Homo sapiens: one gene and its partners. The protein of the gene in region 1 interacts with the protein of each later gene in a pairwise test. Each region holds a gene or a part of one and is shown in the gene's direction. Other genes may lie near its edges. The genes, in order: FBF1, TUBGCP4, CINP and ACCS.

Evidence for each region.
Region 2: the proteins of FBF1 (region 1) and TUBGCP4 interact in a two-hybrid assay, tested with the Homo sapiens proteins (2 studies listed by BioGRID and IntAct).
Region 3: the proteins of FBF1 (region 1) and CINP interact in binary tests that used the Homo sapiens proteins (3 or more experiments, as listed by UniProt).
Region 4: the proteins of FBF1 (region 1) and ACCS interact in a two-hybrid assay, tested with the Homo sapiens proteins (2 studies listed by BioGRID and IntAct).

The regions. Positions count from the first base shown.
Region 1 is NC_000017.11:75,909,430-75,917,624, reverse strand, and holds the end of FBF1 (fas-binding factor 1), read left to right. Parts: intron 1-2,485; coding exon 2,486-2,608; intron 2,609-2,692; coding exon 2,693-2,878; intron 2,879-3,326; coding exon 3,327-3,503; intron 3,504-3,574; coding exon 3,575-3,712; intron 3,713-3,805; coding exon 3,806-3,923; intron 3,924-5,317; coding exon 5,318-5,433; intron 5,434-6,818; coding exon 6,819-6,902; 3' UTR 6,903-8,051; downstream 8,052-8,195. UniProt on the Homo sapiens protein: Keratin-binding protein required for epithelial cell polarization. Involved in apical junction complex (AJC) assembly via its interaction with PARD3. Required for ciliogenesis.
Region 2 is NC_000015.10:43,400,906-43,409,100, forward strand, and holds part of TUBGCP4 (gamma-tubulin complex component 4), read left to right. Parts: intron 1-810; coding exon 811-945; intron 946-2,155; exon of another isoform or gene 2,156-2,777; coding exon 2,778-2,894; exon of another isoform or gene 2,895-3,507; coding exon 3,508-3,647; exon of another isoform or gene 3,648-4,296; coding exon 4,297-4,309; 3' UTR 4,310-6,477; coding exon of another isoform or gene 6,478-6,665; 3' UTR 6,666-7,029; coding exon of another isoform or gene 7,030-7,183; 3' UTR 7,184-7,991; coding exon of another isoform or gene 7,992-8,191; 3' UTR 8,192-8,195. Other genes in the region: TP53BP1 (TP53-binding protein 1), read right to left, coding at 6,478-6,665, 7,038-7,183, 7,992-8,191. UniProt on the Homo sapiens protein: Component of the gamma-tubulin ring complex (gTuRC) which mediates microtubule nucleation.
Region 3 is NC_000014.9:102,347,515-102,353,818, reverse strand, and holds the end of CINP (cyclin-dependent kinase 2-interacting protein), read left to right. Parts: intron 1-3,770; coding exon 3,771-3,900; intron 3,901-5,059; coding exon 5,060-5,262; 3' UTR 5,263-5,537; downstream 5,538-6,304. UniProt on the Homo sapiens protein: Component of the DNA replication complex, which interacts with two kinases, CDK2 and CDC7, thereby providing a functional and physical link between CDK2 and CDC7 during firing of the origins of replication.
Region 4 is NC_000011.10:44,060,675-44,069,762, forward strand, and holds the start of ACCS (1-aminocyclopropane-1-carboxylate synthase-like protein 1), read left to right. Parts: upstream 1-5,595; 5' UTR 5,596-6,027; exon of another isoform or gene 6,028-6,319; coding exon of another isoform or gene 6,320-6,622; intron 6,623-6,953; coding exon 6,954-7,241; intron 7,242-9,088. UniProt on the Homo sapiens protein: Does not catalyze the synthesis of 1-aminocyclopropane-1-carboxylate but is capable of catalyzing the deamination of L-vinylglycine.

The DNA.
Region 1 (8,195 bases):
AAGGCCCCACCTGCCGCTTCCTGCCTCTACATCTCCCTGCCCTGGCCAGGCTCTCAGCACTGCCCACCTGAGCATGCAGGGGCCGCCTGGCCAGGCCCCCCACCACGCCCTGTCCGCTCCTCAGCACCGCAAGCCCCTCGGCCACCTTGGCTGCCCTCCGCAGTCTAGCCCCCGCAACCATCAGCTGCACTTCCCACTTCCTGACACTCGAATCTGTCACATTAGCTGAGGCCTGACATTGGGACAGATGCTCTTGCCCATTAAATGTCATCCTAGCCTCTTCAGCTCTCACAGAGACATTTGAATTCCCTAGATACCTTTCATATATAAGCACATGCTTTATTTAAATAATGATGACCTTAGCCAGGCACAGTGGCCTGTGCCTATAATCCCAGCTACTTGGGGGGCTGAGGCAGCAGGATCACTTAAGGCCCAGAATTTGAGACCAGCCTAGCGAGACCATAAATAAATTTTTTTATGCCAGGCAAGTTGGCTCATGCCTGTAATTCCAGCACTTCAGGAGTCCAAGGCTGGAGGATCACTTGAGGTCAGGAGTTCGAGACCAGCCTGGCCAACATGGTGAAACTAAAAATAAAGAAATAAGAAACTAGCCAGGCGTGGTGGCGCACGCCTGTAATCCCAGCTACTAGAGAGGCTGAGGTGGGAGAATCGCTTGAATCTAGGACACAGAGGCTGCAGTGAGTGGAGATCATAACATGGCACACCAGTCTGGTTAACAGAGCGAGACTCTGTCTCAAAAAAATAAATAATAAAAACATTTAAATTTTGTTTTAATTAACTGGGTGTGGTGGTGCACACCTGCAGTCCCTGCCTTTGCTCACATCCTTTTCCTTACCTGTGGAAATCTTTCTAGGCTGAATTCAATGGTAATGAATCTTTCGATGCTACCACCTCCACAAAGCCTTCCTTGTCCTCCCACCTATCTTTTTGTCCTCAGCTAGTAGTTATCATCTTCTAAGGTTTTACAAAGCACTGTTATTTTTTAGAGACAGGGTCTTGCTCTGTTGCCCAGGCTGGAGTGCAGTGGTGTGATCATAGCTCACTGCAGCCTGACCTCCTTGGCTTAAGCCATCCTCCTGCCTCAGCTTCCTGAGTAGCTGGGACTACAGGCGCAAACCACCACACCCAGCTAATTGTGTATTTTTTACTGAGATGTGGGTCTTGCCATGTTGCCCAGGCTGGTCTTGAACTCCTGGGCTCAAGCAATCTGCCCACTTAGGCCTCCCAACATTTTGAGAGTACAGGTGGGAGCCACCATGCCTGGCCAAAAAAAAAAATTTTTTTTAGAGATGGGGTCTCACTGTCACTCAGGCTGGAGTGCAGTGGCAAGATCTCAGCCCACTGCAGCTTGAACCTCCTGGGCTCAAGCAATCTTCCCACCTCAGCTGCCAAGTAGCTGGGATCACAGGTGCATGCCACTATACCCAGCTAATTTTTTGTATTTTTTGTAGAAACGGGGGTTTGCCATGTTGCCCAGGCTGATCTCAAACTCCTGAGCTCAGACAAGCTGCCCACTTTGGCCTCCCAAAGTGCAGGGATTACAGGCGTGAGCCACCATGCCCAGCCAAAAACTTTTTTTTTTTTTTTTTTTTTTTTGAGTCAGAGTCTCGCTCTGTCACCCAGGCTGTAGTGTAGTGGCGCAATCTCAGCTCACTGCAAACTTCGCCTCCTGGGTTCAAGGGATTCTCCTGCCTCAGCCTCCTGAGCTACTGGGATTACAGGCAACTGCCACCACGCCCAGCTAATTTTTGTATTTTTAGTAGAGATGGGTTTCACCACGTTGGCCAGGCTGGTCTTGAACTCCTGACCTCAGGTGATCCACCCGTCTCAGCCTCCCAAAGTGCTGGGATTATAGGGCTGAGCCACTGTGCCCGGCCCAAAAAAATGTTTTTAAAGAAGAAAATAAAAATATCCCACTAGTCAGAGATGTCCACTGCTGACCTGATATCTATCCTGTAGCCATGTCAACGTAGATAGAGATGCTTTTATGTTGTGAAGCATTTTGATTCGCCTCTTCATTTGGTAACTGTGTTAAGCATCTGCCTGGGGTCAGGCACAGTGAAGCTCTCGCCTTGTGCTGTGTGTGGCTGGGCCCACAGCACAGCATTAAGCCACCCTGTGCTTAGCCTGCTTGGCTGATGGGTGAGGACAGGCAGAGTGCGTAGCTGGCGATTCAGCGGCAGGGATGTTGCTGCTCTTTGGCCCTCCCAAGCTGCTAGCCTTGGTGCTGTTGGAGACCTGAGGGTTGGGAGGGCACCTGCTGGGTCCTTCTCTTGGGCAGAATCGTGCGGGCTGGGCCCTGGCAGTGCCTCCCAGGCACCCCTCATTTTGTGCCTCTTTGGGAAGGACGTGTCAGTGGCATAGTGTGGGAGACACTGGTGGGTTCATGCAGCTTCTCAGGGAGTGGCCAGGCGTGATCCTCAGGGCGGGAACCACGCTCTCAGTCCTGCCCTGGGCCCTACAGGAACGCTGGCGGGTGACTGCCGAGCAGTCCAAGGCGGAGTCCATGCAGCGCGCCCTAGAGGAGCAAAGGAAGGTCACGGCCCAGCAGATGGCCATGGAAAGGGCGGAGCTGGAACGGGCCAAGGTGAGTCAAGCCACCGCACTCAGCCCCTGCCCCTGCCATTATGCCCAGGGACACTCACCCCGTGCCTTCACCCCCACATCCCAGAGCGCCTTGCTGGAGGAGCAGAAGTCTGTCATGCTCAAGTGCGGGGAGGAGCGGCGGCGCCTGGCTGCCGAGTGGGCGGAGTTCTCCGCGCAGCAAAAGCTGAGTAAGGAGCGGGCCGAGCGCGAGGCCGAGCGGGCATTGCAGGTGGACACCCAGCGGGAGGGCACCCTCATCAGCCTGGCCAAGGTAGGGCCCAGAGCCTCCGGACAGTGGAGGGCCCAGGGTTGCCTGCGCCCCTCCATCTGGACACATCCGCTTCCAGTCTTAGGAAAGGAGAGTGTAGCACTAATGTCACAAGAGCATAGGGATTAAAACAGTAATCGCATCATCATGCTAACATCTTCCTCGTATTGTCCCAGGTGCATTATACACATTTTATTTGATCCTCATGTTCCCATGACTTTGGTCATTTAGAAATGAGGAAACCGAACTTCAGAGTTGAGCCTGCCACAGTCACGTGGCTTGTGAGGGCAGCACTCCGGCTTGGCCCCAGGCTTCTCTGGCTCTCCCTGGAAGCCCCTGGCTCCACCACCTCCTCCCAGGGGCAGGGTGGGCAGAGGGGACCCTAGAGTCCTGCACAGAGTGCAGCGCAATTCCTGGGAGGAGAATGCAGCAGGGCCTCCGCTGTCTCCAGGAGCAGGCTGAGCTGAAGATCAGGGCCAGCGAGCTCCGGGCCGAGGAGAAGCAGCTGGCAGCGGAGAGAGCAGCCCTGGAGCAGGAGCGGCAGGAGCTGCGGCTGGAGAAGGAGAGGATCAACGCCACCGCCCTGCGTGTCAAGCTCCGCGCCGAGGAGGTGGAGAGCATGAGCAAGGTGCTGCTCGGGCACATGGGCGTGGGCGCATCTGAGCCCAGGCAGCCCTGACCCAGGCGGCCTCCCTGCAGGTGGCCTCCGAGAAGTACGAGGAGGGGGAGCGGGCATTGCGCGAGGCCCAGCAGGTGCAGGCAGAGCAGCAGGCCCGGTTGCAGGCGGTGCAGCAACAGCAGGAGCGGCTGCGGAAGCAGGAGCAGCACATGCACCAGGCAAGGCTCCCTGAGTGTATGGCGCCCCTGCCCCCGGCACCCCCAGCCTCCCACCTCACAGCTGAGTCCTTCTTTCTGGGGGAACGGGGACAGGAGCATCTGAGTCTGGCCCAGCAGAGGCTGCAACTGGACCGCGCACGACAGGACCTGCCCTCTAGCCTCGTGGGTCTGTTCCCCAGGGCCCAGGGCCCTGCAGCCTCCAGCCAGAGTGGTGAGTGGCTCCAGAAGGAAGGGCCGGCGGCTCAGGACTGGGCAGGGGCAGTGCTAGGAGTGGGCAGGCCCTCCTCCAGCCGCTCCAGTTAAGGCGGCCAGCTGGGTTTTATAGTCGCCTTATTTCTTTTTTACACAAATAATGTGTGTTAATTTTAGATAAATCAGAAATAGAGGAACACTATTATGAAAAATGTCACCTTTTTGTAACTCTGGACTCAGGAAAAAAAAAGGAAATAAAAAAAGTCATTGTCAGGCTGGGCGTGGTGGCTCACGCCTATAATCTCAGCACTTTCGGCAGCCGAGGCAGGCGGATCATCTGAGGTCAGGAGTTCAAGACCAGCCTGGCCAACATAATGAAACCCCGTCTCTGCTAAAAATACAAAATTAGCCGGGTGTGGTGGCAGGTGCCCGTAATCCCAGCTACTCAGGAGGCTGAGGCAGGAGAGTCACTCGAACCCGAGAAGTGGAGGTTGCAGTAAGCCGAGATTGTGCCACTGCACTCCAGCCTAGGGGACAGAGCAAGACTCCGTTTAAAAAAAAAAAAAAAAAAAAAAAGTCACCCTCAACGCCACTCCTGAGTCTTGAGAGAACCACTTTTCACTTTTAACATTTTGGTGCATAATGTTCCACTCTGGTACTTTTTTTTTCTTTTCTTTTTTGAGATGGAGTTTCACTCTTGTCACCCAGGCTGGAGTGCAGTGGCATGATCTCGGCTTAGTGCAACCTCCACCTCCTGAGTTCACGCGATTCTCTTACCTCAGCCTCCCAAGTAGCTGCGATTACAGGCATGTGCTACCATGCCTGGCTAATTCTGTATTTTTAGCAGAGATAGGGTTTTGCCATGTTGGCCGGGCTGGTCTTGAACTCCTGACCTCAGGTGATCCACCCGCCTTGGCCTCCCAAAGTGCTGGGATTACAGGCATGAGCCAACGCGCCCAGCCTGGTACATGTTTTTAAAAACAAAATTAGGATTGTATGTGTTTTTCAATAACTTTACTTTTTTTACTCAGTAATGTACACGTGGAACAGGTTTTCAGATCAGTCATTAAACATTTAGTCAATTCCCAATCAGCACAGTTTTCCACTGTGAGGCTGCTCTGTGCTGAGTGATTTGTTGTCTTAAAGAGAAAGACTACCCAGTGGACATCTTCCTACATATGTGTTTGTACCTTTGCCTGATTATTTCACTGGAATAAATTCCTATAAATGGTCTTTCCAGGTAGGAGCAGGTATGCATTTGCCAGAGGCTTCTGAGAGTTAGTGCCATTGCACCCTGAGTATATGGCCAGGGTCCACCCACTGGCGGGGGGAGCAGCTCTGCAGGAACAAGCTGTGACCGCCCGGTATTTCCACCAACACTTTGGTCCCTGACTTCCTCCTTGGCCTTTTCAGCCCTCATGCCTCCTGCTCCCACCACCCGTTGGTGCAGCCAGCCGCCAACTGGCCTGGACCCCAGCCCCTTGCACCTCCATGCCAGGCTGGCACTGCTGAGGCACATGGCAGAGCAGGTGAGTCTCTCCTGGCCTTGGGGATCCTTGTGTTCACGAGTCCTTCCAGCTCAGGGCAGAGGCAGGGAGGAGCACATGGTAGCCCTGGGGAGGGGTGACCCCAGCTCCTGGGGAGTAAAACTGCAGTTTGCTTAGTGAGCCAATGCTCAGACTTCCACACTAGGCCAGGTTCTGTGCAAAGCAATTTGCATATGTCATCTCAGTTAAACCTCATGATAACCTATAGCAATAATGATAACAGGCTGGGCACAGTGGCTCACACCTGTAATCCCAACACTTTGGGAGGTTGAAGCAGGAGGATCACTTGAGCCCAGGAGTTTGAGACCAGCCTGGGCAATATGTTGAGACACCGTCTCTACAAAATGAAAAACTAAAAAAAGAGGACCAGGTGCGTGGCTCACACCTGTAATCCCAGCACTTTGGGAGGCTATGGTGGGAGGATTACTTGAGCCCAGGAGTTCGTGGCCAGCTTGGGCAACATAGTGAGACCTCGTCTCCACAAAAAAATAGCTGAGCGTGGTGGCATACACCTGTACTCCCAGCTACTCCGGAGGCTGAGGTAAGAGGATCACTTAAGCCCGGGAGGTCGAGGCTGCAGTGAGCCACAACGGTGCCACTGCACTCCAGGCAACAGAGCGAGACTCTGTCTCAAAAAAATAAATATTAAAAATTTAAAAATTAGCTGGGCATGGTGGGGCATATCTATAGTCCCAGCTACTTGGGAGGCTGAGGTGGGAGGATTGCTTGAGCCCAGCTGGTCGAGGCTACAGGTGTGTTCACACCACTGCACTTCAGCTTGGGTGACAGAGCAAGGCACTTGTCTCAAACTAAACAAAACAAAACTATAATGATAACAGTTGTCATTATGGAGCATTTCCTGTGTGCCAACCTCAATGCCGAAGGCTTTGTTTATATTTTACTTATTTATTTATATTTAGAAATGGGGTCTCACGATGTTGCCTCGGCTGGTCTCAAAGTCCTGGGCTCAAGTGATCCTACCCCCTTGGCCTGCGGATTAGCTAGGATTACAGGCATGAGCCACTGTGCCTGGCCTGCTTTGTGTATTTTTTAAGCTTTTACCCTCACACAGCCCTGCAAGGAAGGGCTACAAGGAATGTTTACAGACAAGGAAACTGAGGCTTAGAGACATGAAGTCATGTGCTCGTAAGTTCCACAGCAAACAAGTAACCTTGCCAGGATTGAGACTGTGGTCTGTCTCACTCCATACCTGGGCTCTTTCATGGCCCCTGCTGACTCCCAGAGCCAGGCAGAGTCAGGGACGATGTGGGGAGGGGCCTCAGTGACGGCTGGCTCAGCTAGCATCCAGGGCTCCACCTCCCTCTCAGCTCAGGGAAGGTGACCGCCCATCCAAACCTGCCTTGCAGGACCGTGACTTCTTGGAGAATGAACAGTTCTTCCTGGAGACCCTGAAGAAAGGGTCCTACAATTTGACATCTCATTCAGCCTGAGTGGGACCCCAGCCGATTCCCCAACAGAGGGTTCGGACCCCAGAACTGTCCTGTTCCTCCGGCTGCCTCCATGGAGGCAGTGCCTGGGGAGGATTCTGAGATGCTTGAGGCCTGATGACAGCTCTTCCGTGGACAGGGTGCAAGTGCATCCTTTCCAAATGTGCCAGCCCGGGGCAGCCCCTGCCTCTGGGGCTCTGTGGTGTAGGCTATCTTACCATGGCTTTGGCTGCCCTGCCCCAAAGCCATTGGCTTGGATCTGAGGGTCTGAGTTGGCAGCAAGGACCCCCAGCTCTCACTGGGCTCTGTGGGCTCCCCCTGGGCTCTGTGGGCTCCCCCTGCTCCACAGGTAGACTGTTGTGGGCTCTTTTTGCCTGGGCCTCTTCTGAGGCAGGAGCTTTCTTGAGGGATGCCACAAACAGCCTTCCCTACTCCCTGCCAGAGCAGTTCCCTCCCTGATGAGCTGGAGAAGGGCCCTCTGGCCTCCTGACAGTACAGGGAGGGCACCAGCTAGATCCTCCCTTGTGGTGTGAGATGTTCCTGGAACTCAGCCAGGCCCTCCTCCTCCTGGGCTTGCCCAGAGCCCCCACCCTATTCCCAGCATTGCCCGAAGGACCAACCAGTTTGGGTGAACAGTGGCCTCCTCAGCTTCCTCCCCATCTGGGTGCCCCACCGGCGGCGGAGGGAGCTGTGGCGATGGTGGGGTGTGGGGAGGGACGAGGAGGGAAGCCTCTGTGCTGCTCACCTGCCCAAAGCCCAGCTCAGCGGGTACGCAGTGGAGGCGACAAGGAACCAATCACAACTACAGAGGTTTCTCTGATCCTCCTCCACTCCCGCTGCTTCAACTTGACTAAGCTTAAAAAAACTGCTTTTGCCATGGCTCATCGGAGTTTATACTTATTTCTTAGAAAATGTTTCCTGTTATTTGCTGGACAAGTCCCAAAGAACAGGCAGATGTTCTTATTAAAAGATCAGCCTATAAGATTGGTCAGGACCAGGCGCCTCTGGCCACGTGCCTCTCCCCTCCAGCACCTGCGGTCTGCGGTGGCACCTGGCAGCTGGACCACAGCCAGGAGAAGGGTACTATTAGCCCTGCTTCAAACATGCAGAAACTGAGGCCCGGGGAGATTAAATAACCTGCCTGAAATGACAGTGAGTAGCTGCGCCTGGATTTGAGTTCTGCTCTGGCCAATCCCCAAGCTCCACGCTGTCAGCCACCCCGCTCTCCTACCTCCCAGAGGAGCAGGCTACACTCCTGGTAGGTGCTGGTGTGGGAGGAAGATCTTTTCAGGCGCT
Region 2 (8,195 bases), on another chromosome or scaffold:
AGACTCCGTCTCCAAAAAAAAAAAACTCCAGGCTTCAAATGATCCTCCTGCCTTTGCCTCCCAAAGTGCTGGGATTATAGGCATGAACCACCGCCACACCAGCCTCTTAAAGGCATTTTAAAGAATCCTCATCAACAATCTATTATTTATTGTTGACTTGCCCCTTATTTTTATTGTTTGCTATAACTTCTGGAATCCTGTAGGTGACCAAGTCAGTCAGTAGACGGAATGTGGCCATGAGTGGATTAGGATGGGGCAGGGGAGGCTGGGCGCAGTGGCTCACACCTGTAATCCCAGCACTTTGGGAGGCTGAGCCAAACAGATCACCTGAGGTCAGGAGTTCGAGACCAACCTGGCCAACATAGTGAAACCCCTTCTCTACTAAAAATACAAAAATTAGCCATGCGTGGTAGCGGGCACCTGTAATCTTAGCTACTCAGGAGGCTGAGGCAGGAGAATTGCTTGAACCCTGGTATGTGGAAGTTGCAGTGAGCCAGGATCGCACCACTGCACTCCAGCCTGGGTGGCAGAGCAAGACTCCGTCTCAAAAAAAAAAAAAGGAAAAAGAGAAAAGGATGGGGCAGGGGAGAGTGGTCAGCCAGGACGTTGGAGGGAGGGGGTTCAGAATTATGCAAATAACTTCCTACAAGGCTGGGCAATATAAGGGTGTCTTTGGTCAGCCTTAATGTGACTTGGTTAGAAGGAAGATGAGTGGAGGCAAAGCATTTTCATTTCAATCTGTCAGGCATCTTAATGTCTTCGAGTGCTTAGAATATGCAAAGTGCTAAAATTTTTTGTAATGTCTATCAGGTAGATGTGTTGGAGTCTCAGTTCTCCCAGCTGCTTCATCAGATCAATTCTACCCGAGACTTTGAAAGCATCCGATTGGCTCATGACCACTTCCTGAGCAATTTGCTGGCTCAATCCTTTATCCTATTGAAACCTGTAAGTAAGGCTCATTGGTTTCCTCAGACTGCTTCTACCACTGACCATTCCCTTAGGCAGTTTGAGTTGACAGGATACGAAACCATCATTAAGCAATTATTCAAGTCCATTTTAAAACATTTTTTAAGAATGTGTAAAGCGGCGGGGCATGGTGGCTCATGCCTGTAATCCCAGCACTTTGGGAGGCCGAGGTGGGCGGATCACAAGGTCAGGAGTTCAAGACCAGCCTGGCCAACATGGTGAAAACCCGTCTCTACTAAAAATACAGAAGAAAAAAAAAATAATAGGTGTGGTGGCTCGCGCCTGTAATCCCAGCTACTTGGGAGGCCTGAGGCAGGAGAATTGCTTGGACCCAGGAGGCAGAGGTTGCAGTGAGCCAAGATCATTCCACTGCACTCCAGCCTGGGCAACAGAGCAAGATTCTGTCTTGGGGGAGCAGATAAAAAAAAAAAGAATGTGTAAAGCAAAACTAAAAAGGCATGTTAAACGGGACCTAAGATGTCTTTGAATTTCTGAAATACAGGGTGTGGTGAGCAGCTACAGATGAAAGAATTATGTGCTTAAACCCTCAGGAGTTAAAGAAACTCAAAATTCTTGCTGACAATACAGAAAAACCAATGAAAAGCATATAGAGTTCACCTTCTTAGAAATCTTTTGGACCAGGATGGATCAGTCATTTGAAAGTTCTTTTCATAGACAACTAGAGTAGTGTTTCTCTCTCGATCTATGTATGTGTTTCTGTAAGTACATATATGTCTCCTTCGTGGCAGTTATTTTCAACTTTGGCTGCACATTGGAATCATCGGGACTCTTTAAAAAAATCTAGGTGACAGAGCACTTAAATTAGAATCCCTGTAATAGTGGGACCCAGGTACTAATTTTTTTTAAAGCTCACAAGCTAGTTCCAATTCCAGGATAAAGAACAGGAAGACTGAAATGATCTCTGGTAGTTTCTAATGGAACGGTTATGCCTCCTCTGACATGAGCTGGTTGTTATTCCTCAGTGTGCTACAGCACAGCTGTTACAGACTTTTTAAAAATGTTCTGGTGTTTAGGGCTATTTCTGCTGTACCAGGAAGAGTAAGATATATATTAATAGATGCCACTCCAGAGGGCTGGCTGAAAACAACCAAGAACTACTGTGATGGGTAGATGCTGTCCTTATGTGGCATAGATGTATCCATAGGGAAAAGCAGAATAACAGAGCAGGTCATCATCATTAAATATTTATTGAGTGCTTACTGTATGCAAGGCACTGGGGATACAAAGAGGTATAATTCATGGCTCTGCCCTTAAGGAGCTCACAATCTAGTTGGAAAAACAAGACATATATATATATATACATACAAAAATCAGTAACAACACAGAGGCCTGAACAATTGCCAAGTGGACAACAGTACAGATAATAAAGAAGCAAGAAACGAGGGTTCACTAAAGGCTATAGTGGGGAAGGGAGTGCTTCACTGAGAGAGTGGGACTTGAACTGGTATTAAAAACAAGAGCATCCCGGGCAAAGGGAACAACACTCACAGCTCAGAGGCAGGAAGACACTCTGCGGGTCTAAGAAATGAAGAGTTAAATGTGGCTAGATTGGAGGTTTGGTGCAGGGCTAAGAGAGTAATACTCGCTTAGCCAGGAAAGGATGCATTTGTTTTACGCATTTTGTGCGTCTGAGGGGCTGGCAGGCCTTGCACGTGGCAGTGTCTATCCTGTCAGATTTGGGAGGTCAGCTATTAATTAGATCAGCTATTAATCAGACTGTTCTCCTAACACTTTAACTTCATGGATGTACCTTCCTTCCTTTCCTAATGCCAACTCTGTTTCCCGGGTAGGTGTTTCACTGCCTGAATGAAATCCTAGATCTCTGTCACAGTTTTTGTTCGCTGGTCAGTCAGAACCTAGGCCCACTGGATGAGCGTGGAGCCGCCCAGCTGAGCATTCTCGTGAAGGTGCGTCTGCCTGGAAGTATGCAGCCTTGCCGAAAGGACAGAGGTGGTTTTGCCAATGGAGAATTCATGATCTTTCCTCTGAGTCAGTAAAGCATTTCCTCAATACACACACGTACAGAGATAAGATACAAAGATAAAAATGTTGGTATCAGTTGATTTTGAAGCAGGTAATACTGTGCCACCTCACAGTGCTCAAAAATAGTTCAGTCCTGAATAGTTTATTCAGCCCATCAAATAAGCATTGGGTTGTTCTAACTTCCTCACATCCTCCCCCCTCCTTACTTCCTTGAACTAACCCCCATCTCACTGAGATAATTATCTGCTTGTAATCAAAACGGGTTCTCCCCAACCCCAGTACTTGACAAAATACATTAACTGGAAACCAGCTACTAAATTCCTACTGATGAAAGAGTACTTTCATAGGAAGTCATGCATGTATGGATTTGGTACAAGTCATTTTAGGAACTAATAGAAATAGGAATGTGGGAAGGCCAGGTGGTTCTGTAGAATTTTGAACAAGGCTTTTCCAAGAAACTCCTCCCTCCGCCCCCATCCTCCATATGGAGAGTTGGTGAGCTGAAGTGGAATGACAGCTGAGTCCTTCTCTCTGCAGGGCTTTAGCCGCCAGTCTTCACTCCTGTTCAAGATTCTCTCCAGTGTTCGGAATCATCAGATCAACTCAGATTTGGCTCAACTACTGTTACGACTAGATTATAACAAATACTATACCCAGGCTGGTGGAACTCTGGGCAGGTAGGAGCAACCCTTGGGTAACTCAGTAGACTTTTTAAGGTGGCTTTTTAATGAGTTGTAGAATTCTAGAACTGGAAGAAGACTTTAGTCCAAATACCCTCATTTTATAAGTAAGGCTTAGAGATAGAGGTGTGACCATCTTTAATAATTTTAATGGAGGTTATTTTCTAGTAGAAGTCATCATCATCATAAAATACTAAAAAACCTGACAGTGAGATAGGTGTTAAGTCCTTTGCTAGGTTATGTATTGCTATGCTGGGAGGCAGTGGGCCTTCCACTCCCAATTCTGATATGAACTAGCTGTGCAGCCGTGGGCACCCCGCCTTGCTGGTCCCTAGCTTCCGCATCTGTGAAAGGAGGCGACCACCCCTTCTAACTCTAAACTTTAAAAAAAACTGATACCGAGATTCAGTGGTAGCTGGCTTCCCAGAGGTCTGTCATTCCCATTCAGAAAATCACTTCATTGTCCTTTCTCTCTAAAATGTCTGCAAGCAGATTTTTTTCTAAGCTATTGTAGCAGAAGAGTCAAAAGAAACTCTTCAGTTTTAAGATGACATTATTTAGATCACAGGTTATCCTGATTCATATTTCTTTGAAGGTAGTCTTGGGAAAGCATGACACTTAATAAGGCTCTTTTTCTCTTTTGTAGTTTCGGGATGTGAAAATTTCTGGCTCATAAATTGAAATAACAGCCACGTTCCCAAGGTTGTAACAGAAGATTCAAAACATCCCATTCTAGCCACACACAAATAAATATCTGCGGCTTAGTGATAGGACTCTACCTTTTCTCCTAGAAGCAGTTACTGAACATCCAGGAGTACAACTCCTTCCCATCATTCCCATGTGGAAGGGTCTCTCCCATCAAGGAGAACATGTGGCATCTCTGATCCTTTACATTGAGAACATTTGTTGGATATGTTCATTTATTCAATAGTCATTTATTGAGCACCTACTACGTACCTTGGTACTGTTCAAGCTGTGGGAGATACAGCGGTAAACAAACAATATAGAGCAGAAAGTTAAATATTTTATGGTTCATATGTGAAAAAGTAATTATGTTTATAAATAGACTAACTGCTGGATGTTACCACCAAGTAAGAAAGCAACAGGTAAGATAGGCTTTCTCTCTCCCTATACCAAGTAATTTATACCTACACAGATTGGGCAATTCTAGCTAATGAAAATATACTTAAAAGTATTTCTTAGGCCGGGCATGGTGGCTCACACCTGTAATCCCAGCACTTTGGGAGGCCGAGGCGGGCGGATCACCTGAAGTCAGGAGTTTGAGACCAGCCTGACCAACATGATGAAACCTCGATTCTACTAAAAATACAAAAATTAGCCAGGTGTGGTGGCATGTGCCTGTAATCCCAGCTACTCAGGAGGCTGAGACAGGAGAATTGCTTGAACCTGGGAAGCAGACGCTGCAGTGAGCTGAGATTGTGCCATTGCATTCCAGCCCGGGCAACAAGAGCGAAATTCCGTCTCAAAAAAAAAAAAAAAAAAAAAAAAAGTATTATTCTCCAAGAAAAAGGTCCTTAAGAAAAAATTGAGATCAAGTTGTTAGATTTTTAAATACTGAAGATTGCAGGCCCAATTACCCATCTTACACAAACCATAGGGGTTGAAGTTATCTTAATATGGCCCAGCCATCACTGGTAATCAATATTCATATCAGTGTAAGTAAAAAGAAATATTCACTGAACAACGCCCTCCAAACTGAAAAAGAATGCAGTGTTCTGGCATCAGGTTATAGTCACTGCATCTGGTTTTCATCACTACATATTCTACACACACTGGGAAGCTCTGACAACTTATTCCCTGCTATTATCAACTAAAGATCACCCTTTCTACTGCTGTCTCTGGAGCAGGAGCTGGCAAACTATGGCCTGCTGTCTGTTTTTGTACAGTTTTACTGAAACACAGCCATGCCCATTTGTTTACTCATTGTCTATGGTTGCTTTCATGCCCTCACAGCAAAGGCGAGTAGTTGTGATGGATCAAATGGCCCACAAAGCCTGAAATATTTACTCTTTGACCCTTTACAGAAAAAAACCTTGTTGACCCCTGCTTTAGAGAATGAGAAGCCATGCAGGGATCAGTGATGCCAGAGGAAGGGAAGGAACTGCTTCCAGCTATTGTGACAATAATAATAATAATAATATTGGGTCTTTGACTAGAACGTGTAACATTTCCAGGTGTTCTCACTTGTGCTTCCCATGTTTATCTTACGGAAGGTCATTCCATCAAGCTTATGGTCACTGTCCCTTCATGGCAGTTGGTCCTTTCGTTCTCCCTTTAGCTCTAAGAGTTGGGGAGTACCCACAGGTGAGCTGTGATCTCAGCTCAGAGAGAGAGCATGAGGTCTTTTTTAACTGTCAGGAAACAGAGCTGTGCCCAATTCCACTCAACTTTTGGCACAACTGTTAATCTGGGCCTTCACCTACCTTAAACTGAGTTTCTGCAAGCATAGCATTTTAGACACCCTGGAATAACCTTTTGGGAATGATGCCACAGAATAAAGTTCACTCTTAACTTTTCAATTTCCTTGGCCAGCTGTCCTCCGTAAGTGAATAAGCCTGTTGAAAGACTCAGAGAAAGTACTATGTCTTGTCATTTGTTCTGAGATTAAGCTCAAAAAAACAGATGAAGAAATCCCAGTTACTACAACCAAAGAGATTCAACATTTATTTTATCATAAAAGTTCAGCAAATAAAACTATATACAAGATCCATGCAAGGAATCCAGTTACACACAAGACACATTTAAAACCTGGTTAAAACACAATCTCCACGATAGCAGGGAATAAAACCAGTAAGACCAAGTATCTTTAGTGAGAAACATAATCGTGTTTATATTTTGGATGCTGCTTGAATCCAATTCTCTCCCCAACAATGAGGCACTGGATCACCCACTCTTGTGACACCACAGGCAGCTGCAATGCTTCAGCACACTTCAGCACCGAGGCTGGGCATGAGGGGTCCGTCACCACCACATCAAATACCCCTAAAGCAATATCTGCAAGGAGCAAGGGAAAGTGAAGAAGGAAAGGACACTCAACTTAGCCCTCCATTAGAAAGAGAGATTTGATTCTAACCAATACATCCCACTCTGCACAAACCAAAGCCCTATTATGTCAAACACACTGCTACTGATCATGACCAAAGGCAGAGTTATAATCACTATGTGCTGACCTTGTAGAAATATTTAACAAATATACGTCCAGTGCTTCACTTATGTTGACTCACCTCTTGAAGGTGGTACTTTTCTTCTCTAAGAAACATGGATACGGTCAACCTATTAGGCCTGAGCCTTGGACCACAAGGCCTAACACCTACAGGTCTAAGGAGATCCCTGGAACAAAGACACTACACACACTCTTTCAGGTACCTTTGTTATGGGCACTTGAATGGTGCTGCTTCACAGAGGCTGCACCACCAGTCATGAGGATCTCAGACCAGAGCTCCAGGAAGTTCTGCTGTTGGTCTGATACCAAGAGTACCTTCAGATTCTGGAAAGGATTTTCACGGGGTTGCCTATGAAGGAGACAGGAAAGGACCTTAGCATGACAAGTAATATCCAACAAACTGCCTTTCTGCAAAGGGACTCATGTACATCTGAATGCTTTCAAAAATAAATGCCCCATCAGACATAGTGTCTCAAGCCTGTAATCCCAGCACTTTGGGAGGCTGTCGTGGTTGGATCTCTTGGGCCTGGGAGTTCGAGACCAGCCTGGGCAATGTGGTGAGACCCCATCTCTACAAAAGACAACAAAAAAATTAGCTGGGTGTGGTGGCGAGTGCCTGTAGTCCCAGCAGCTTGGGAGGCTGAGGTAGGGGGATCACTTCAGCCTGGGAGGTTGAGGCTGCAGTAAGTCGTCACTGCGCCACTGTACTCCAGCCTAGGTGACAGAGCAAGACTTCATCTTAAAAAACTAAGCCCTATATTAGGGTCCCCCTTCTCTTCCTTCTTTCTATGAATGATCTGTATTCCTTGCATTCCTGGCTTTCTAATTTCCATGTTTGTTCTGGGGCTGAGAATAATCCAAATCATGCTCCTGAGCCTATATATTTTTAATGCTTGCTTAAAACTTAGTTCTCTGACTTTACAGGTTGAGAATATTGAACCTATATACAAATCTTCACACATTTGCAAAAGGTTCCTAGCCAATGTAACCTAGGGAAATAAACTAGATAAACTCCTGAAGTCATTTCAAACCCACTCAAATTTATCCCACAGACATTCCAATTTCTAGAAAGCTTTACTCTCTCACCTAGATTCTCTTCCCTCCAAAGCTTGCTGTCCTCCTGCCTATACAATTCTGGATGGGCTTCAAATACTTACCAGTCCAGAATTCTTTGCTCCTCAAGGCTGTACCCAGCTGGCAACAGATAATTACGGTAGTTCTGGAGCTGGTTGGCATGGCAACTATCATGGACCCAGACATGAGACACACAAGGAATCCCACTGGCAAGGCACAGGAAGTACTTCCGGGTTCGACAATGCTGATCCGCAATTAGAAGACACTGGTAAGCTGTGTTACACTGC
Region 3 (6,304 bases), on another chromosome or scaffold:
TGGCGCCCTGCCTTAGCTTTTCCGTCATGTCTTGTTTTGGCTTCAGGATCCTGTATGACATCGAGTCCCCTTGTTTCCTCAGGCTCCTTTTGGCCGTGACAGTTTCTCAGACTTCCCTGTTTTTGATGACTTTGACAATGTTGAGGGATACTGGTCAGGTATTTTGTAGAACATCATGAGATTTATCTGATGTTTTTCTCCTAATTAGACTGAGGTTACGGGTTTTGTTCAGAGGAGGACCACAGAAGTAAAGTGCCATTTCTATCATGTCATATCAAGGGCACGTACTGGATATACTGTCATCAGGACTTTTCTTTGGGTCCCACCTATTGCCCGGGCTGGTCTCAAACTCCTGGGCTCAAGCAGTGCTCCCACCTCAGCCTCCCAAAGTGCTGGGATTCCAGGCGTGAGCCACTGTGCACAGCCAGGACTTTCCACTGCTGAAGTTGACCTTGATCACCTGGCTGGGCAGTGTTTCCAGGTTCCTCTGCTGTGACGTTGCTCTTTCTCCTCCTCCCACGCTGTGCTCTTTGGCAGGAAGTCACTATGCATAGCCCACACCTGGGGGTAGGGACGTATTCACCACCTGCTTGAGGGTGCAGTATCTACATAAATTATTTGGAATTATTCTGCGTGGGAGATTTGTTCCCTCCCTCCCATTTGTTAATTTTTTTTTTTTTTGAGATGGAGTTTCACTCTTGTTGCCCAGGCTGGAGTGCAGTGGGGTGATCTCTGCCCACTGCAACCTCTGCCTCCTGGGTTCAAGTGATTCTCCTGTCTCAGCTTCCCAAGTAGCTGGGATTACAGGTGCCTGCCACCACACCCAGCTAATTGTTGTATTTTTATTTGTTTTTTTTTAATTTTTGTTTTGGCCAGGCGCAGTGGCTCATGCCTGTAATCCCAGCACTCTAGGAGGCCGAGGCAGGTGGATCACCTGAGGTCAAGAGTTTGAGACCAGCATGGCCAACATAGTGAAACCCCATCTCTACTAAAAATACAAAAAATTAGCTGGGGGTGGTGGCAGGTGCCTGCAATCCCAGCTACTTGGGAGGCTGAGGCGGGAGAATCACTTTCGGAGGTTGCAGTTAGCCGAGATCAAGCCACTGCACTCCAGTCTGGGCCACAGAGTGAGACTCCGTGTCAAAAAAAAGAAAAAAAGAAAAAGAAAAGTGGTTTGGGAATAAGTTCTCATTCTATGTTCAAAACCAAAAGTTGATTTTATAGGGTATTATTATTTTTCCTATTTTCCTCTATCCGTTATAGAGAATGGTTTCCAGACCTGGTCTGTGTCTTTCATAACTTTGACCTTCTGGGGGTTTCATGCACCGTTCTTCCTAAGCTGGGCTAACATTTCACTGTGGTCTGTGTTTGCTGTGGGAAGAAGCCACCGATGTTGAAATGTAAGGGCCTGCTGTTTATGCACTGTTCATTCAGGGCTGCACGTGCCTATGTGACTTGAATTCTTTATTGATGGCTGAGCTGCAGGATTGAGCATGACTTCTTGCCTGGGGTCAAGGCTCCAGAATTTTCCTTAGTCTCCTGTTATCAGCTTTTCTTAGAATCAGGTGGCACCAGGGAGCTGCTGCAGGACTCACAGGAAAGAGCAGAGGATTGGGTGTTAAAACTTGGTGTCGGCTGGGCGCGGTGGCTCACGCCTGGAATCCCAACACTTTGGGAGGCTGAGGTGGGCGGATCACAAGGTCAGGAGATCGAGACCATCCTGGCTAACACAGTGAAACCCCAGCTCTGCTAAAAGTACCAAAAAAATTAGCCAGGCACAGTGGCGGGCGCCTGTAGTCCCAGCTACTTGGGAGGCTGAGGCAGGAGAATGGCATGAACCCGGGAGGCGGAGGTTGCAGTGAGCGGAGATCGCGCCACTGCACTCCAGCCTGGGTGACAAAGCGAGACTCTGTCTCAAAAAAAACAAAAACAAAAACAAAAACAAAAAAACTTGGTGTCAGAAGGCATGGTATCGAGTTCTGGCCTCATCCTTCCTCAGCTCAACCTTAAGCAATTTCCCAGCTGTGAAACGGAAATGACAAGTCCTGCCTCTTGGGGTTGGGCCAAATAAAATATCAAACCTTAAAAGATTTGGGAAACTACTTAAGTAAAGTCCTTTAAAAATTAACGTTAGCTGAATTTAGTGCTTGCCACTTCCAATGTAATTGGAGGGTGGTTGGAAGGACCAAGTAAAGGAATTAAGATATTTGACAATTTATATATCTTTTCTTATTTCCCCTTTTTCATATTTATGTATGTAAAGTCAACTATACTTAGGAGTTCAAAATTTGGTCTTTATAGACCTATGCTACTTAAATCTGAAATCCTAGTTACTTCACCCATTAATTTTCTTTATCCAACCCTTATATATCTCCAAGTAGGTGCTTCACAAATACTAACTCACTTAATCCTCTTCACCAAGCTGTGAAAGTAAGCCCGCCATTGCCCCTATTCTGTGCTGCCTGGTGTGTGCAGTGGGGTTGGTTTAGTGTCTCCCACAAGTAGCCATACACATCATGCAGTTACAGGGCTTAGGACAGAGCCTGGTCCACACTGAGGGACCGTCAATGGCAGCTTGCCACGTTTCCTTCCTTTCTGCGTGAAGTGTGTAGGGCTCCCTTTCTGTGTTGCCATTTTATAAACAAGGAAGTCAAGGAGGTTTCCGTAAATAAAGGCAGTTAATAAGAGAGAGTCAGGCCTGGTGCGGTGTCTCATGCCTAGAATCCCAGCACTTTGGGCGGCCGAGGTGGGCGGATCACGAGTTCAGGAGATCAAGACCAGCCTGGCCAACATGGTGAAACCCCGTCTCTACTAAAAATACACAAATTAGCTGGGCGTGGTGGCACATGCCTGCAATCCCAGCTACTTGGGAGGCTGAGGCAGGAGAATCGCTTGAACCAGGGAATCAGAGGTTGTAGTGAACCGAGATCTCGCCACTGCACTCCAGCCTGGCACTGCACTCCAGCTTGGCAACAGAGCAAGACTCCGTCTCAAAAAAAAAAAAAAAAAAGAGAGAGAGAGAGAACATCAGAAACGAGCTCATTTGATAGAGAGACAGAGAGCCTCAGAAACGAGCTCATTTGATAAAAGAGAGAGAGAGAGAGCATCAGAAACGAGCTCATTTGATGCCTTTCTCTCTCACTTCTTAAAAGCAGCAAGAGCCAGCCAGGCGCGGTGGCGCATGCCTGTATAATCCCAGCACTTTGGGAGGCTGAGGCGGGAGGATTGCTGGAGCCCAGGAGTTAGAGACCAGCCTGGGCAACATAACGAGACCCTGTCTCCACAAATTAAAAAAAATTAGCTGGGTGTGGTGGTGCACACCTGTGATCCCAGCTACTTGGGAGGCTGAGGTGCCAGCGGTTGAGGCTGCATAAGGCATGATCATGCCACACAGAATGAGACCCTGTCGCAAAAAAAAAAAGAAAAAAAAAAAAAGGCAGCAAGAGCCTGCCTTGGGATTCCTCCAGGTCTTTGGGTCTAAGACATTAATGCTGTTTGGAAATCCTAGTGAAATGGCACTCGGAAACCTTTCTTGCTCTAGGACTGGAAATCTGGGGTTTATTACCAAAGTCATTCAAATTAATGAAATCATAGCAACTGTCCACCTTCATCTCCCTGGGAATTTGCTGTACGTAGAGTTAACAGTGTTTAGTTATTGGAATTTTTATCATAATAGACTTACACTTCTTAGCTTTGAAATCTTAGAGTTATTAAATCTGAGACTGGAGATTTCAAATAATATTATCATATTCCAAATGGATATCTTTCAGACCAAAATACAGGTGAAAATGGAAAAGCTGTCTTCAACTACCAAGGGAATTTGTGAACTAGAAAACTACCATTATGGGGAGGAGAGTAAACGACCCCCTCTGTTCCACACGTGGCCTACAACCCATTTCTGTAAGTAGTTCCTTCTCAGTTGATTTTCAGGAGGGTAAAGGTTATTAAGGGCATTTAGTATCGTTTACATCTGGTACTTTAAGAAGCTGACAAGGCTTTCAAATTCAATGCAAAAGTATCGGGAGGAAAGGAGACAGAGGCATCTTAAACATTTCTTCTTGGCTTTAATTACCTGGTTATCAGCAGAGTATATGAAACATAGAGACCCGTGAAGCAAGCTGCTGTTATTAGGCCTCTAAAACCAATGGGCAGAGTGAATTCCACCTCCTCTGTGGAAGCAGATATCTCTCATTTTGAGGGGGGGAAAGGAAGAAAGGAGTTTTTTTGGTTTGTTGAGGTTTTTCTTTTGTTTTTTGTTTTAATTAAAAAACAAATTGAGGGTCACTGCAGCCAACCTCATGGAAGATGACTGGGAAAAATGAAACCCATGGCTTCAGTAAACTCTATGAGGCGCTTCTTAAAGGGTTACTTTTAGCTTTTATTAGTTCAAGACAAGGGTAAGCTATTTGATGTTGACCTGAGACTTTTTAAATAAGGCAGGAAAGGGTAAAATCACCTAGTGGAATGTGTTTAGTGAAATATTGTCAGTTTGAGGGGAATCTCCTACTGATAATCACTGTAGGTCACCTAAGAGTCAAGTAGAAAAGGTTATATATACTTTTTTTGAGACAGAGTCTCGCTCTGTCACGCCTGCTGGAGTGTAGTGGTGCAATCTTGGCTCACTACAGCCTCCGCCTCCCAGGCACAAGCGATTCTCGTGCCTCAGCCTCCCAAGTAGCTGAGATTACAGGTGCGTGCCACCACACCTGGCTAGTTTTTGTATTTTTTAGTAGAGACAGGTTTTCGCCACGATGGCTAGGCTGTTCTCAAACTCCTGAACTCAGGTGATCCACCCACTTGGGCCTCCCAAAGTGCTGGGATTACAGGTGTGGGCCACCACGCCCGGCTTGTATACACTTTTTATTTCACTCTGCTGACCATGTTATCAAATTGTACTAATCTGCACCAGCTAGAGTAGTAAACTCCATCGGGCCCTTCTTCCCCTCAGTGCTGTTGCTGATTCTGGTTTTTAATCAAGAGCTGTTAAAATGTAGTTCTTCCCAAGTCGACACTATGTTCTTGAATCACTGCCATTAAGGGAGATTCACGTTTCTTTCAGATGAGGTTTCGCATAAGCTCTTGGAGATGTACAGGAAGGAGCTGCTCCTGAAGCGCACGGTGGCCAAGGAGCTTGCCCACACCGGGGATCCCGACCTCACCCTGAGCTACCTGTCCATGTGGCTGCACCAGCCCTATGTGGAGAGCGACAGCAGGCTGCATCTGGAGAGCATGCTGCTGGAGACAGGCCACCGAGCTCTCTGACGTCCTGAGACGGCTGCGGACACTGGCTCCTTCCACGTCTCACCAGGCAGACAGTCTGCCTAGGACCCAGTGCCGCAGGCCTGGATCAGACCCCAGGATCAGACCTTGGGGTCTTCTGGCCAGAGCTTGTCACCAGCCCCATGGCCTCTCCAGGCGTGCTCATGCCCACAACCCGCGGCCAGCCCCACGTGGTGCTGCTCAGCCTTCTCTGCCCCTCCTGGGAATCTGTCATTCGTGGGTGCTTCAGAGTAAAATCAATGAGTTTCTGAGCAGAATGAGTGAGTGATCTAGTTTCTATAAATTAGGCATGCTTTATACATTATGTTTGTGTAGAAAATCCCTGGTTTAATATTTTTACTTTATGCCTATCTGATTGTTGAAGTTTTTATGAGACTATATTAGTTTTTGGGCCAGGTGCGGTGGCTCATGCCTGTAATCCCAGCACTTTGGGAGGCCGAGGTGGGCGGATCACTTTAGGTTCGGAATTCAAGTCCAGCCTGACCAACATGATGAAACCCTGTCTCTACTAAAAATACAAAAATCAGCTGGCGTGGTGGCGCGTGCCTGCAATCTCAGCTACTTGAGAGGCTGAGGCAGGAGAATGGCTTGAACCGGGAGGCAGAGGCTGCTGTGAGCCATTGCACTCCAGCCTGGGCGACAGAGTGAGACTTCGTCTTAAATAATAAGATCCCATGGAGTTAAAATGAAGTTTGACATCATGAAAATGAAAATAACCTACAAAAAAATTGCCGCTGTTTGCATACTGGGGACATGGCAAGCGATGTAAACTGCCTTCCCTGGCATTCTTCTGACACAAATCCTCGAGTTTCACAATGTTTGCAGCCATTTCCAGAGTTAACATACTAGGTTAGAATGAGGGAAAGGTGACAGTTTTGAAACAGACCGAAGAGACTGGCCAAAAGCTAGGGCATGGGGAGAATGTGAAGGTATGCAAAAGCCTACTTTTTTTTTTTTTTTTAATGGAGTCTCGCTCTGTCACCAGGCTGGTGTGCAGTGGCACGATGTAAGCTCACTGCAACCT
Region 4 (9,088 bases), on another chromosome or scaffold:
TGAGGCCAGGTGTTTGAGACCAGCCTGAGCAACCGAGACCCTGTCTCTACAAAAAATAAAATTAGCTGGGTGTGGTGATGTGTGCCTCTAGTCCCAGCTATTCAGGAGGCTGAGGTGGGAGGCTCGCTTAAATCTAGGAGACCAAGCCTGCAGTGAACCATATCGTGCCACTGCATTCCAGCCTGGTTATAGAGTAAGACCCTGTCTCTACAAAAAAGAAAAAAAAATCTGACAAGCTTGGTGTCTTAGTCCCTTCATAATATGAAAATATCACAAAGTGGATGGCTTAGAAACAAATCTTTCTCACAGTTCTGGAGGCTGGAAAGGCCGAGTTCAAGGCCCTGGGAGATTTGGCATCTGGTGAGGGTCCCATCTTCCCAGTGTCATCTCATGTGGCAGAAGAGGTGAGAGGTCTTCCTCTGCCTTCATGACCCAATCACTTTTCAAAGGGCTCACCTTCTAATACCATCACCTTGGGGGTTAGGATTTCAAATATGAATGTTGGGGGGACACATTCAGTTCGTAGCATCTGGGGTTGTCCATTTCCATTTCTAATGTTTTCAGCTGTTCAAATTAAGCCACCCATCAGTTTCTCTGCAAAGCCCTTGCATGTCAGAGCACTGATACTGTGAAGTGGGCAGAGAAGGGACTACTACGATTTTATGGATGAAGAAAGAGCTCACAGTACCAACTGGTGGCTTTAGTCGCTTGGGTTTGTGGCCGTACTTGCTCCGAATCCAAATTTGTTTATTCTTGTCAGTTTTCTTGTGTGTGTGTGTGTATGTGTGTGTTTTTGTTGTTGTTGTTGTTGTTGTTGTGAGACTGAGTCTCACTCTGTCGCCCAGGTTGGAGTGCAGTGTCACAATCTCGGCTCACTGCAACCTCTGCTGCTGGTTCAGCGATTCTCCTGCCTCTGCCTCCCAAGCAGCTGGGACTACAGGCACGTGCCACCTCGCCCAGCTAATTTTTATATCTTTAGTAGAGACAGGGTTTTACCATGTTGGCCAGGCTTGTCTCAAACGCCTGACCTCAAGTGATCCGCCTGCCTCGGCCTCCCAAAGTGCTGGGATTACAAGCTGAGCCACCGCTCCTGACCGATATAGCTCTTTTTAAAAAACCTCTAGTATAACGTTGAATAAAAGTGGTTGAGAGGACAGCCTGCCTTGTTCTCAGTCTTAGTAGCATTGAGTGCAATCTTCTGCTCTTGAGTATAACGTTACTGTATTTTTCATTCTGTCCCTTATCTAATAAAGAGTCCTTCTATTACTAGTTTGCTGGGAGTTTTACCATGTATGAGGGTTCAATGTTGTTAGATGTTTTTCATCTGCATTTATAGAGATATGATTTTTCTCTTGATTATCAATGTAGTAAGTTACATTGATTTCTTAATGTTAAAGCAACTTCACATTGCTGCAATAAACCCCATTTGGTCATGATGCATTGTCCTTTTATATACCATTGAGTTTGGTTTGCTATTTTAAGAAGTTTACATTCAAGAAGGACATCATTCTATAATTTTTTTTTTTGTAATGCATTGTTAGTTTCAGTATCATGATTAATACTGGTTTCATAGATGTTTGGGAAACTGTTCCTTCCTGAATTTTCTAGAAGTTTGTGTCCAAAAACTTCTTCAACCTTTAAATATTTGGTTGAATTCAGCTGTAAAACCATAAGGGCCTGGAGGTTTTTTTTTTCTTCTTTTTTTTTTTTTGTGGGACGGCTTTTACTTATAAATTCAATTTCTGTGACAGTTCGAGTTTTCTATTTCTTGTATCAGATTTGGTTATTTGTGCCTTTCAATAAAGTTTGTCTATTTCATCTAAGTTTAATTATTGACTTAAAATTGGTTATAAATATTCTGTTATCCTTTTAATACATTTAGGATCTTTAGTTGTATCTCCTTTTCCTTTCCTGATACTGAAATTGATACATGCAGGAGGGGGATTACGGGGAGGGTCTCCGGAGAATCTCCAACCCATCTGTGCACTGGGAGAACAAGATGGAGCCAAGGGAAGCTGTGGCCATGCTCAGCGGGGAGGAGCCTGGCCTCTTCAATTTCTGTGTGGTGGCCTGGGATTCAATGTGAGTTTGGAGGCCTGTTAGCAGGACCCCCTCTTGCTCTGCTGACAGTATTTTTCTTTTTTCCTTTTTGCCCAGTAAATTCCGTTCCCCTCACCCTTCAATGTGTCCATGTTCCTAATCCTTCCTGGTGGTGTGACAAGAACCCGGTTTTAGCTGAACTAAGGAGCAAAATTCTGCAACAAAATGAGTTTTTTTGATCAGTCAATCTAACTGTTTATCAACTGTATTGAACTTTTCAAAGAACCAACTTTCAGTTTCATTGATTTTTCTCGTTTCGCCTTCATTTCTGCTCTTATCTTTATTTCTTTCTATTTACTTTGGGTTTAATTTGCTCTTTTTTCTAGCTTATTAATGTGGAAGCTTAGATCATTTGTTTTAAGTTGGTTTCAAATATATGCATTACAAGCTATTCATTTCTCACTTAGCATTATTTTAGCTACATTCCATAAACTTTGATCTGCTGGTTTTTAATCATTCAAAATATTTTCTAATTTCCCTTGTGATTTCTTTTTTTAAATCAATGGTTTGCTTAGCATATGTAACTTAGTTTCCAAATATTTGGGGACTGTTCAGCTTTCTTTGTTAATGATTTCTACTTTAATTTCATTGTGACTAGAGAATGTACTCTATGGTTTCAATCCTTTGAAACTTATTAAGACAGTTTATGGCCAGATTTGTTTACAACATGTGGTCTATCTTAATGTTTCATTTGCACTTGAAAAGAAGTATATTCTGTGGTATTGGGGATGGTGTTCTATAAATGTCAATTAGATTAAATTTTTGTATAATGTCCAAAAGTTCTGATCCTTAGTGTCTTTTGATCCATTTGTTCTATCACCGAGAGAGTGGTATAAAATTTTCCAATTATTATGAACTTGTCTTTTCTCTTTTTCGTTCTGTCAGTTTCTGCTTCATGTATTTTGAAGCTTTGTTATTACGAGCATAAACTTTTAAGATTGTCACCCTGATAAATTAATCATTTTATTCTAAAATGCCCCATTTTATTTTTGTTAATTATTTTTGTCTTGAAGCCTACTATCAGATACCAATATGAACACATCAGCTTTTTTCATGATTATTATTTGCTTGTTTTTTTTCACATTTTTACCTTTGACCATTTGTTTTTGTATTTAAAGTGTGTCTCCTGCACACACCATATGCTTGATTCTTGCTGTTTTATCCAGTCTGATGATCTTTTAATTGATCTTTAGTCAATTCACATTTAATGTAACGTGTGTGTATGTCTTCCACTTAGGACAAGTGCCTGTGTTTGTTGTTTCGTGGGGTTAAATCCCCCTGCTGCATGTTTCCATGGTACCCAGTAAATAGTCTTTTTAAAATAGTCCCCACATTGTAAGTCGGCCTTCCCAATCAATCATGCAGGCTTTGGTTTGTCTTGCTCATCACCGTATCCTCGCATTTTACAGAGACCTGGCACATAACAGGCATTCACTGAGATGTGAATTACATAGAATTAAGATTTAAATAGAGGAAAATAATCGCTTCCTTATCTTACAGAAGAAAACAGTAAGGGCCAAAAAAGTCATGAGAGTTGCTCAAGGTCACAGTGTTAGCTAGTGCAAGGCAAAAGTGAAGACAAGAAGTGGAATGGCCAGAAGACAGCCATGTCTTCCCAGCCATACCTGTATTGAGAGATTCTGCTTATTTCCTTTCATGGGGAAAGAAGACTTTCCCATTCAAGGCACCTCAGAGACTGCAGCTCTACCTGGGACCTGGGTGCCCACTGTACCCATTGCCAGAATATGTAGAGCTTAGGGCAGAGTTTGAAAAATACTTTTGAAATTATATGTGTGTGTGTGTGTGTGTGTGTGTGTGTGTGTGTGTATGTAATTTTTTTTTTTTTTTTTTTTTTTTTTTAGATAGAGTCTCGCAAACACCCAGGTGGGAGTGCAGTGGCACGATCAAATTCACTGCAGCCTCTACCTTCTGGGCTCAAGTGATCCTCCCACCTCAGCCTCCCAAGTAGCTGAAACCACAGGCACATGTCATCAAGTCTGGCTAATTTACAAAAACATTTTGGCTGAGTGCAGTGGCTCACGCCTGCCATCCCAGCACTTGGGAGGCCGAGGCGGGCAGATCACGAGGTCAGGAGTTCAAGACCAGTCGGGACAATATGGTGAAACTCCATCTCTACTAAAAATACAAAAATTAGCCAGGCGTGGTGGTGCGTGCCTGTAGTCCCAGCTACTGGGGAGGCTGAGACAAAAGAATTGCTTGAACCCGGGAGGCGGAGGTTGCAGTGAGCAGAGATTGTGCCACTGCACTCCAGCCTGGATGACAGAGCGAGACTCCGTCTCAAAAAAACAAAAAAACATAAAAACCTTTTTTTGGTAGAGACACGGTCTCTCTATGTTGCCCAGGCTGGTTTCAAACTCCTGGGTTCAAGGGATGCTCCCACCTTGTCCTCTCAAAGTGTTGGCATTACAGGCGTGGGCCGCCACACCTAGCCAGAGTTCAACAAATATTGCAGGCACGTGTGGGAGACCAGGACATGCCTCCCCAAAACATGAAGGATTGTGCTAAAGACAAGCAGCAGCACATTCAGGAAAGCTCTCTACCCTGGCCCTATTTGCCTAAAAGTAGGACACAGGTTTACAAAGACAAAAGGTATCCTGTCCCTCTGTCTACCTAGGAGAACAAAGACAACTTTAGACCCCTATGGCCTGGAGATGGTACCAGAGGAATTTACATTAACAAGCTTGACTAACTGGCCTTTGTCTTTTTTTTTTTTTTTTTTTTTTGCCTTCTCACAAGTTGCCTCCTGGAGAGACTCAAAGCCCTATTTCTTTGTCTTGTAACTTAAAAAAATTACTGTTCTTTGTTGAAGATGCTATAAAAACTGGAATTCAAAGTCACCTCTTCCAGAACGACTCATTCCCTCCAGATTTCTCATGTATAAATGAAATACACATGTCAGTAAATTTCTGTCTGTTTTTCTCTTGTTAATTTGTCTTTTGTAACAGGAGTCTCCCCCAACTAAGAACCTATGAGGGCTACAGAAAATCCCCTACAAATGAAAGGGGCAGAAATGACAAACTGCGATGAAAGGCCATAAGGATGCTCACACCCGAATCTAAAAAGCCCTTTGTGTGGGCCGCAGCCAAGCATACTTTGGCAAGAAATTTCTGTGGCTCTAACCTCCTTTGAAAACTGGAGAACCAAGGCCAGGAGGCAGAAGGAGGTGGCAGACCCGGCCCGGCGGCGGCCCAGCACGCGCAGGCCACCCAGAGTGGAGGTGGGAAACGGCATTACGCCCCTTTCCCTTTTCCTGGTCCCGCGGTGCTACCTCGTGTGCCACCCTTAAAGCGTAGTCCCCGCCGAGACCGCCCCCGCCTGAGTGGCAAGGGGACGAACTGCGCCCTGAACAGGCCTGGAAGCCCAACCCGGTGCGGACCGCCCTCAGTCTCCTAGTCCGGGCGCGCTGAGCGCAGGGGGGCGCTGTCCTCACCCACGCGTAAGTCGCCGCAGGGCGTTTCCGGGCGGAGAAAACCTACACGTGATGGGCGCCCACCGAGTGCCAGCACCGCCTCCTCCAGCTCCGCCAAGTAGGTGGGATCCACTACTTTGCAGAGGAGGAAGCCGTTCAGGCCTCCCTCTGTGCACTTTGCAAAAGCCTCTGCCCTTCCATCTCGAATCCCTTGGCGCCGATCACACTTCCTCTGCCTGGAAACCTGGAGCCGTCTCTCGCGAGACGTCCTCCGCCCTGTAGAAGGCCGTTTCGGTTCTTCGTGCGCGGTAGCCGCCCCACTTGCGGGATTCCAAGGCCTCATCGAGTGCGGGTATCTGGCTGTGGATTCGCCGCCGTCCTGCTGGACGCCTGGAGGCTCGAACCCCGCCGCCCCCCTACCCCAGGCTTTACTCCCACCCCGGCTTCCGCCCACTGTGCTGCCCTTCCTCGGACCTGGGCTGTCGGGAGAGCTGGAGGTGAGCGCTCTTGGGAGAGCCCAGCCAATTTAAAGAGTACCCCTGAGAAGACTTTGCGGAGGAAAATTTAACTGCGGGTACCCGCTGAGTTTATGGTGCGCCCAGTGTTACCAGAGCTTGTGTTGTGCATCAGGACTGGGAAAATTGGCAAGGAGTTACGCTATAATGACTCATATTTTATTGAACTTTGGTCATCAGCCAGGATTTGTTCTAAGTACTTTATTGTCACTAACATATATATTTATGTCTTCACGGCCACCCCGAGGTGGTTACTGTTATATCCACTGTGCAGATGAGGAAACTAAACTGGCTTAGAGAAGTGAAGGAGTTCACACCCGCGGGCAGGAGTAGACCACCCTCTCCTTGGTGTCCACACCTCGTTTCTTCAGGACTGAAGAGGCAGGCCCTGGAGCTCTGCCTGGGTTGCCTGCACTTGTGGAGGTTCCCATTCCTCCCTTCCCTCAGTTCCTACCCGCCATCTGCCTCAGAACACCACATAATCTCATCCTACCCTTTACACCACAAGACCCCCAGGACTCCCAGGCAATACTCTGCTTTAACTCAGGAAATTTTAACCTGGCATTTGGTAATTGAGGTGAGCAAGGGTGGAAAAAGAATGTTGATGACCCCTTAGGCTGGAGAGTGAAAAACTTTTGCAGAAGTAGAACACGCTAAAGCAGCAATACATTAAAGTCACGTCAATGTGGCAAGTGCAGTCCCTGGCACGTACTAGGTCCTTAACAGATTTTTCTTGTTGAAGTCGTTGCACATATGGTTACAGCTAAGGGACACAGGAAGTGATGAGTGCATAAACCTAAAGGAAGGGGCAGATAAGAGAAAGGGGACTCCCATGACTCCAACTCCTTTCTGATGCTTGGTGCTATGGAAATCCCTTGAGCAGGCCTGTGCGTTTTGTCTTTTTGCAGATGTTCACCCTTCCTCAAAAGGACTTCAGGGCTCCCACCACCTGTCTGGGCCCCACCTGCATGCAGGACCTGGGCAGTAGCCATGGGGAAGATCTGGAAGGAGAATGCTCCAGAAAACTGGACCAGAAGCTGCCAGAGCTCCGTGGAGTGGGTGATCCTGCCATGATCTCCTCTGATACCTCCTACCTGTCCTCTAGAGGAAGAATGATTAAATGGTTCTGGGATTCAGCTGAGGAGGGCTACAGGACCTACCACATGGATGAGTATGATGAGGACAAGAACCCCAGTGTGAGTGAAGCTCCCCTCCCACTGGGACCCAAGAGAGAACTGCAGGGTGGGGTACCCTACCTTGACCAATAAGGCAGCATCCAGCCTGCTCTTATGAGGTTGGAGTTATGGTACTCTGACCTCCAAGAGGGCTTCTGATGTAGCTTAGAGAGGCCCCAGTGTACTGCCTGGATCAGGAAATGGTCCATTTAGAATATAGGGGACCTTGATTTCTGAGGGAGGAATTCAAGAACCATATGATGTTCTATGGATTCTGACCCACGACCTGTCGACTATCCAACTTTAGAGCTAGGGCAGAACTAAGGTTCAGGTTGCAACTGTTTTACTTATAGGTTGTGTGTTGCTGAGCTAGTTACTTAACTTCCTTGAATCTTAAGTTATCTCTAAAATGAGATAATAAGGCCAAGCATGGTGGTTCATGCCTGTAATCCCAGCACTTTGGGAGGCTGAGGCAGAGGGAACACTTGAGGCCAGGAGTTTGAGACCAGCCTGGGCAGCATAGCAAGACCCCATCACTACAAAAAGGTAAAAATAAAAAAATTAACAGGGTGTGGTGGCGTGCACTTGTGGTCCCAGCTACTGGGGAGGCTGAGGTGGAAGGATTGCTTGAACCTGGAAGGTTGAGACTATAGTGAGCCAAGATCATGCCACTGCATTCTAGCCTGGGCAACGGTGTGAGACCCTATCTCAAAATAACAACAAACAAACAAAAATAAAATAAAATGGGATAATAATACCTGTTGTGTAGAAGAGTCAAGATTAAATGAGAGCAAGTATATGAAGTTTTTAGCACAGTGCTACTCAATAAATGATAGCTGCTATTATTATTTTCTGTCCCAAATATAAGCTATTCTCATAATGCCTTCAGAAGTCAGAAAGCTGTTACAAATAACCCTTTAATAATCTTTATTTGTTGAGCATCTACCATGTAGATGTGAACAGAAACAAAGTTCTTATCCTCATAGAGCTCATATTCTAGTTAGGGAGACAAACAGTGAATGAACAGAGAAAATATATGTATACTATATGGTGGTGAGTACTATAGAGAAAAATAAACCAGGTTAAAGAAGACAGAGAAAGATGGGTGGGCTGGGGATGTTGCTATTTAGTAGAAGGAGGTCACAGAAGGCTATTTTAATAAGATGAACATTTGAGCAGAAACCTGGAAAAAGTGAGGGATTGTGTTAGTTATCTATTGTTGCATAACAAATGACCTCAAATCTAGCAAGTTAAAACAACAATTCACAATTTTTGGAGTTCAGGAATCCTGGTGGATGCCTCAGGCTCAAGATCTTTTTTTTCCTTTTTCTTTTTCTTTTTTTTTTGTGACGGAGTCTCGCTGTGACACCCATGGAGTGCAGTGGCATGATCTCGGATCACTGCAACCTCTGCCTCCCGGGTTCAAGGGATTCTGCCTCAGCTTCCTGAGTAGCTGGGATTACAGGTGTGTGCCACTATGCCCAGCTAATTTTTGTATTTTTAGTAGAGACAGGGTTTTGCCATGTTGGCCTGGCTGGTCTCAAACTCCTGACCTCAGGTGATCCGCCTGCCTCCGCCTCCCAAAGTGCTGGGATTACAGGCATGAGCCACCGCGCCTGGCCAAGCCACCGTGCCAGTCCACGCCACCACGCCCAGCCTCAAGATCTTTTGTGAAGGTGCCATGAAGCTGGGGCTGTGGTCTCATCTGAAAGGTTGACTTGGGGCCAAGGGATTGGGTGGGAGGCTCTACTTCCAATGACACTCTTATGCTTATTGGCAGGCTTCAGTCCTTCTCCACGTGGGCTTCTTCACAGAATTGCCTCATGGCATGGTAGCTGGCTTCTCTCAGGGCAAGTGATTCAAGAGAG